Linked DNA regions of Homo sapiens: all the other regions are linked to region 1. The links come from fine-mapping of genetic effects on gene expression. A gene starts in region 1. Each other region holds a variant in brackets. All regions are shown on one strand. Distances are from middle to middle. Region 1 holds the start of BANP (BTG3 associated nuclear protein). Region 2 overlaps BANP (BTG3 associated nuclear protein). Region 3 overlaps BANP (BTG3 associated nuclear protein).

Region 1 (2,646 bases):
CCTACAACTGCCTCCTCTTATCAATTATTTACTGTAGTGCGAGTTCCAGCATCGCCATCAGGCCCTGGAGTACATTCCTGGGCAGAACAGGCAACTCCAAACAGGGCAATTACCTGTTCCACATCAACAACTGTGTGACCCGGGCCCTCCCCGGTCAGGGTGCAAGCTCGCTACCCTTCAAAGCCCACACTCGCTCCACTTGCTCACAGTTCTTCAGGGATGATGTATTTCTCCAATAGCAAGACAACCCCTACCATCTCATCAGTGAAAAACATCAGTCCTCTATCAAGGCAATCTCTCCAATTTGCTCACACAGTGTGGATGGAATGTCATCTACTTTCTGCATCCTAGGGGGGAAAAAGAAAACGGCCACCTTCCTTAAGGACTAGATCACAGAAATCGCACAAACGTGCTGGGGAGGGGGCACCCCGAGGTCCTCGTTCATCGGGGCCCCTCGGGGGACGGGCTGGGGTCGTCGCCGAGGTCTGCGGTCCCCGAGAGCGCCCCTTGCGTGTGCAAGTCCTGGGCTATGGGGCTCCGGTCCACAGCCACGGAGGAGGCACAAAAACGATGCCTGTCGCTCCCGCCTGGCTGGCAGGAGCGACCCCCTTGGGAGACTTCGGGCCCCAGAGGAGCCCGGGCGCGGTTCTAGGCCTTTCCAGTCTCCCCGCCGTGGCTCCGGGTCCTTCCCGCGGGGCGAGGCCCGGGACAGAGGTCGGGAGCGCGAGGCCCCCGGGCCGGGCTGCGGCAGCCGCGGCTCAACGGACGCCGGGCGCGGTGGGGCCGGGGGTGCGGAAGCGAGGAAGCGGGAGCCCCTCTTCCGGGGCGCGGCCGGGGACGGGGAGCGGGGCCCGGGGGGCGATCGCCCGGCCCGGGCGGTTGGCGGCGGCGGGGCTGCGGCGCGGGCGGCCCGGCGGGCGGGAGGAGGAGGGAGGAGGGAGATCTCGCTCTCGCTCTCGCCCCGCGGGAAGGGGGAGGCGGAGGCGCGACCGGCTGCGGGAGCTGCAATTACCGTGTGGGCTGCGGAATTCTCGTGGTGTTTGTCGGGGAGATGCGATAATGGCGTCCGTCCTCGCGAGAGAAGCCGCCGCTCTGCGCAGGCGCCGCGAGCCCCTCCCCGCGACGCTCGGCCCCCGCCCTCCGCGCAGGCTCACTGGGCGCGCGGGCCCGGGGGCGGGGCACCCCTGTGGCAGTGAGGCCAGCTGCGCGCGCTTTTCCCGCTCGGCCTCCTGGTGAGCATGCGCAGGCGGCCTTCTTCCGCGACGGTACCGGCTTCCCAGGGCTTTTTTCCCCCCGTTTTTCGCCCACGCCCATGGCCTGCGTGAGAACAATCACCTCAGTGGACGGTCTGAGGAATTTGCATCTTCTTTGAGACGGAATGAATACGCATTAGCTCCCTCAACTACTACACCTCCCAGGGTGCCCTGCGCAAGCTGGGAGCCATGCATTCGGGGACTCGTAGTCCCTGCGTCTGGGCCATGCCTGCCGGGACTTGTAGTCTCTCCGGACTCCGGTGGCCCGTCCTGTCCCCGCACCAAGGGTTGCTGGGACTTGTAGTTACGATGTCTCAGGTGGGCTGTGCGCCCCCAGCGGGTCCTACCTGCTGCTGCGGCGGGTCCTGCCCTGAGGTTCCGGAGCGCTTGGTGGCGTTTTCCCTGACATAAGTGGTCAGGGGTCCCCAGTGTCTATCCAGAGGGGCCTGAGTGCACGCGCGCGGGACTTAGCACACGCGGCAGTGATTATGGTCTTAGATAAGTCCTATAGGTAACACATAATATAAATAAGTGATGGCGGCCGGGCACGGTGGATCACGCCTGTAATCTCAGCCCTGTGGGAGGCCAAGGCGGGCGGAACACCTGAGGTAAAGGGTTCGCGACCAGCCTGGCCAACATGGCGAAACCCTGTCTCTACTAAAAATACAAAATTATGCCGGGCGTGGTGGCGGGCGCCTTGTAATCCCAACTACTCGGGAGGCTGAGGCAGGAGAATCGCTTGAGCCCGCGAGTCAGAGGTTGCAGTGAGCCGAGATCGCGCCACTGCACTCCAGCCTGGCGACAGAGCGAGACTCTGTCTCAAAAAAAAAAAAAGTGATGACGTGAATGTGCACACGTAGAATAAATGTGCAAATGTGCGTTTGTGGGTAATCACAGGAAAAAATTCCCAAACCATAGCGCAGTTCCCAGAAATGTCATTCCTGGTTATCTCCCTCTGCTAATCTAGGATTACCTTGCCTTTCATTTTCTTCTTTATACTCGCCTCTGTTTCCTCAATTATTTGCAATGAGCAAGAATGCCTTTGAGCTCCCAAACACAGGGCGAGGCAGCTATTTTCACTGGGAAAAAGAAAATGCTGGCCGGGCGCGGCGGCTCACGCCTGTAATCCCAGCACTTTGGGAGGCCGAGGCGGGTGGATCACGAGGTCAGGAGATCGAGACCATCCTGGCTAACACGGTGAAACCCCGTCTCTACTAAAAATACAAAAAATTAGCCCGGCGCGGTGGCAGGCGCCTGTAGTCCCAGCTACTCGGGAGGCTGAGGCGGGAGAATGGCGTGAACCCGGGAGGCGGAGCTTGCAGTGAGCCGAGATGGCGCCACTGGACTCCAGCCTGGGCAGCAGAACGAGACTCCGTCTCAAGAAAAAAAAAAA
Region 2 (2,646 bases), 32 kb before region 1:
TCAAACAGTTTGCAAACTACCACACAGCTTTCTAAGATTAGACTCATTAGACTCTACTTTTTAAAAATAAGCAAAATAAAAACTGCAGACTTGAATGAAAAGTTTGATATATTCATGTGAAATGTATAAACACCACATACGAAGAAAAACATATGTAAAGACTAGCCAGGTAGAGTAGGAAAAAGGAAAGAAGCACATGTACATTTTCTAAGATCTGGTGGGTTAGTTCCAAAGAAAAGGTGCATGGGTCGGCTTTATGTGGAAAGGAAACGTGAGGATGACTTCAGGTCATCCTGGCAGGATGCCATGTGTTCGGTTTCGGTCTAACTAAAAGTCAGCTTTAGTTAGAAACTGCTGAGACTGCTGAGGCAGACACCGCGCATCTCCAGCAAACTGAGCCACTAAGCTGCGGGCCTGGGCGAGGAGGTGACGCGCTTCTCCCCAAGTGACCTGAAGGCCCCGGCACCCTGGTCTGTTCTTACCATCGCACTTTGTTGCACGTCTGGGTTGCCCCGAGAGGGGAGCCGGCCACCATGGGGACCTGGATGGGGCTGTGCTGCTTGTTCGTGACCAGATCCAGCTTTTCTTCTAAGGATTTACAAGTAGCCTCCAGGGCTTGCAATTTGGCTTCAATGCTATCCAACCGCAAGCAGATTGTCTGGTTGATGGAATACAGGAATGACTGGAAGTGAAAAAAGACCGGCTTTAGGAAGGGTCTCCTGAACTGTAAGAAGACAACCCCAAGAAACACCAAACAGCTATTTCCTGATCTCAACTCTATCTATTCAGACAGAACAATCCCCACACTGGAAATAGCCCGTGAGCTATGAGCCAGAAACATGTGAGTAACACGTCCACATTTTACACACGAGTCACACGTCCTGTTTCAAATGTGATGATTTAGTCATGGTTTCACTTCTACGTGCAGTTGCAATTCTTGGTTAAGCCCATTTAATTTTAAAAATGTACTTTAATATGTTATTATTAATCAGTAAATTTACACATAAAACTAGTCAAATCTTCTCAACAATAAAAACAGATTACACCTAACATCGACACAGCATAAAAGCCACAGGCCACGCACATTC[G/A]CCTCACAGCCCGCTGCCTAATGGGAAAAGGTGACGGGACCCCCTGTGGCCCTGACTTGGGATTTGGTCCTGAGGCTCCCGTGGGGCTCTTGAGCGGCAAGCTTGCCACCTAGTGGTTGGCAAAGCCGGGCTCCACGTCTGACCTTTCCGGCTGAGTCTCCTCCGGATTCCTAACTCCAAGTAACCAGTGAGCAGTCACGTGCCGGACCCCAAACCCAAGAAACAGAGAAACACACAAACCAGAAAGGGAAGAATTTCATTTCCCCAGCTGCCGTCCCAGCCAGGAGCCACCATGAGCACACGTGGAAACGTGTTAATCACACAGGAATTGCACTGTGCAAAAGAGACACCCTCCACCAGGTCTCACCAGCAGACAGAAGGACACTCCTTCAGGTCTAGGGAGGGACAGGTTGGGGGAGCGCCCACCAGCCCTGCTTAGTACTCAGGAAGGCTGGCACCTGCCTTAAGAATCAACAGCTGAAAACAGCACAGAATTCGTGTTTCGTCTTTTCTCTCTCCTTTCCTGCCCATGACCTAAAGAGCGTGGGGTCCAAAGTGTGCACATCAGAAGGAAGGGGGAGGTAGGCTCGAGACAGCAGGGGTGGCACTGAGGCAGCCACTGAGAGCGGGCCGTGGAGCTCGCAGCACAGGGGAGCGGGAGGCCGGCCCACATTGACAGGGGAGCGGGAGGCCGGCCCACATTGGAGCCGGAACGGCTTTCCCAATAACTGCAGCTGACCTACAACACTGCTTATGCCCACTCTCCTTTCTGATCTCAAGGGAATCTGCAGAATATCAAAACTGCAGTGATATCATACATCATGTAGCTGGCATGGAAACCTGGCGTACACAGTGGCAGGGACAGCCCTGCAGGAGGGAAAATCCACATATTGCCCAACAACTCGCCTTTTCTCAGGTCACCACCTCTCCTGGCAAGATTCACCACTGGGCGCTGATATAGACAGGAGCTAAAGAAACCAACTGAAACTCACCCTCCCTGACTGACTACTCTCTGTTGAAGGCGCGTGTGAGAGAGGGAAGGAGCCACGGCGTCAGGTGGACTCAAGCCCACGTGATGACACTCAATCAGCTTACCTACAAAGGAGGCACGGTCCCTGGCATGACAAACATGCATCGTCGTGAAAAGCAACAATAGGTGGCTGAATCCCTGAATGGCCACTGATAACGCCGCTATTTTCAACAACCGGAGAACATCAAATGTTTGGCTCTCAAATTCTTTACACAGTACACCCATGTTATTTTAATTCTGAATTACAAATGATTCTGCCTGGGGTTTTGGGAAAAATCACTCTTATATACCAATAAAACAACCTAGAGCCACGCACACGACTCTACGCAAGTCACATTCAACCGGGGGCCCACCCTCTTCTCAACAGTGGGACAAGGAGGAAGGCAGGGCCACTCCCGTGCCCACTTTATACATTTCTGTTCTATGTGCAACAGATGTGTGTTCTGTGATAAAATCAGAGCTGCGTTTTATTTAGGGAATGATAACGCAGTGTTTACTAACAGAGCCACATCCTATCCATTGGTTGGA
Region 3 (2,646 bases), 72 kb before region 1:
GGTGCAGGCGCCGCCCGCAGATGCTACTGGACAGCAGCTGGGGCAAGCGCCCACGTCTGGGCAGCCCTCAGGGCTCGGATTCCTTTACCTTTTCTGACAGCACTGAGCAGCCGCACTTAACAGGGAGCGGGAAAAATCCTATCATGATGGGATCAAAAGATCACCTTGAATTTAACTGCCATTTTCCACTTTAAGCATTTGATCTCATGTTATTTGACAGACATTTTTTTTTAAAAGCCTCATGAAGTAGGAATGTCACTACTCTCATCACTTTGGTTTTGAGGCAAAAGCCAGAAAAAGGAGAAGTGATGTGTCCAAGTCCAATTACTAGTTAGGAGTGAGCACCGGCCTTAAAGTGCAAGCTTCCTGGGCCCACCAGGTGAAGAAGCAGCGGCCCTCACTGGATCCTGAGAACCCATGAGAGGTGCTCGGGGAGACGGGAAGAACACGCACAGCCCCGCACACGTGACTCTGCTGTCCTGAGCTCCCTCAGCCCAAGGCACCTGCAGCCCCTGCTCTGGGAGGCCTAGTCGGACTTCAATCGAGGCAGAAGTCTCCCCTGCAGCAGCGCCCAGGACACAAGGAGAACAGAAGTGCTCGGCATCCGGCTGCTGAGGCTCACGGGATCCCCACAGCGTGGCGTCACCTGGGAGCAGAACACCCTGTCTGGCCTCAGTCCCTGCTTTCCCCAGCCATATCCCCACACTACACCAACCGAGGCCCCTCAAGGCCGGGACGGGATTGCCTTCCAGGCTCAGCCAGGCAGCATCCCTGCCACAGTGCACGCCTCTATTTTCCTGGCGAGCTGTTCTGCAGTCCCCAAAGAGCTAAAGAGTCTCCACTACACCGTTAGCTGCCTTCCCACTTTCCAGAACCCCCGTTACTGACTCTGGTGGTTCAAATCATAAGCCGATTCCCAGCTCTCCATCTGTGGGGCCATGAGAGGCACTGTGGGAAGCGAGATGAGAGAGCCAGGAGGGCTTGTCATCTTGTGCCTTGGTGGGTGGCATGGGGCTTTATCAGTCACAAAGGAATGAAGAGCCCCACCTGCTAACACACTCTCATGTGCAAGGGAAGGCACCACAAAACCGAGTGCCAACAACTGATTTCTTCAAATTACAGACTCGACGTGACAGCGCTGCCTAGAAAAACAAAAGGCCTCTGCCCGATGGAAGCCAGCTGACATGCTCCCTCCCGGGGGAAGCATACACAGCTCACGCCCCA[T/C]GCACCTCAAACGTCCAGCCTCCAGGCCAAGCCGGCCACCTTCTTCAAGCCTGCTGACTCACTCCTTTATGAGAAAAAATGATGGAGAGACACCTGTCCTCAGTCTGTTAGCCAGAGAGCCCCTCACAGCCACCTGCAGGACCACCTCCAGGTCACAGCTTCTGGGTGACCTGCTGAGAAGGAGGCTCTGCTCACTTTTCTGCCTGAAGCCCACACTGACCACACCTTCCTCCCAGCTCTCAGTCACCGTGAGGCGCTCAATGTCCCAAGATACACAGACAAACACCCACCCCTGCATGGAGTCCACATTCTGCCTTAAGGACACATATAGGGCAGCCTCACCATTTCACCTCACAGAGAACCTGGAGAAGAGACAGCACCTGACCACCCGTGTCCTGTGTCCTGGGCTGAACAGTGTCCCCACAAAACTCACGTCCTGGTCCAGGACCCCAGAATGTGACCTGACTGGGAACTAGGGTCTCTGCAGATGTGATTCATTAGGTTGTAATGAGGTCATCCTGCAGGAGAGGGAGCTCCAAATCCAGTGACTGTCCTCATAAGGAGAGGGACACAGAGGGAGACATGGGGGGAAGACAGCCGAGGGGGATGCGGCCAGAGACTGGAGGGATGCGGCCACCACCAGAAGCTGGGAGAGGGAAAGGGCCTTCTCAGGCAGCGTGGCCCTGCCCACACCTTCATCCCAGGCATCTGGCCTCCAAACCTGCACGAGAACACAAGCCTGTGTTCTAAGCCAGCCAGGCTGTGAGCTTTGTCCCCGCGGCCACAGGAACCTGAGGCACCCTGCAAGACACAACGGGGCCAGGTCGCACACCTGCACTCACAGGGACAGGTGTGGGTGAAGTGGCCCCCGCTGCTTCCCACTAGGTACCACCACCTGGGGCTTGGAGTGAATGATTTGAAAAGAACTACAATCATCTGACAGGTCAACCCTGAAAGCATAACTTTTTACCTTGTGCAAATGAATCCAGTCTTTCCGTAACTGCTAGGAGGTCTCATGGGGATCGGCCATCCACAGCAGCATTCTTTAGATCAGACGAGATCGGGTGTGTTCAGGGTGGCACGGCCTTAGACAGCATTCTTTAGAAAAGCCCTCAGATCCGGGGTCACCGGCTTGGATGCAGAGTCCAAGCAGAGGCGTGAGCGAGCCGTGGATAGAAATCCTAAGAACTAAACCAATTTCTCTTCATAGAGAAAACAGGCGAATGCTGCTGTCCTGAGAGCACATTCCTTAGGAAAATGCTCCAAGGTTTTCCAAGTTGCAATAATATGCTACTTTTGCATAAAACACACAAATTTGGTTAGCTGCCCAAATTCGGGGGGTCCACCAATCCTTGGGAACCCTAAGAAAGCCAACACCCCAAAAAGCAAATTTCTCTCTCTCCCTCTTTCAATAACCTCATT

The links. PIP is the estimated chance that this variant, and not a neighbour inherited with it, causes the effect.
Region 2: its variant is fine-mapped to the expression of BANP in whole blood (TOPMed, PIP above 0.99).
Region 3: its variant is fine-mapped to the expression of BANP in testis (GTEx, PIP 0.93).

Annotation. Positions count from the first base shown.
Region 1 is chr16:87,949,882-87,952,527 of GRCh38, reverse strand. BANP (BTG3 associated nuclear protein) reads right to left here and starts at 1,094. Exons shown (of 14, transcript NM_001386991.1): 1 at 1,013-1,094. RefSeq lists silencers at 599-698, 719-778, 809-928, 939-1,238 and enhancers at 527-1,169, 1,429-1,738.
Region 2 is chr16:87,982,096-87,984,741 of GRCh38, reverse strand. BANP (BTG3 associated nuclear protein) reads right to left here. Exons shown (of 14, transcript NM_001386991.1): 4 at 483-682. Among named protein-coding and RNA genes, the nearest start is that of BANP, 32 kb to the right of the region's middle. RefSeq lists an enhancer at 1,031-1,623. The variant G/A (reference allele first, on the strand shown) is at 1,089.
Region 3 is chr16:88,021,979-88,024,624 of GRCh38, reverse strand. All of the region lies in intron 7 of BANP (BTG3 associated nuclear protein), which reads right to left. Among named protein-coding and RNA genes, the nearest start is that of BANP, 72 kb to the right of the region's middle. RefSeq lists a silencer at 1-8. The variant T/C (reference allele first, on the strand shown) is at 1,225.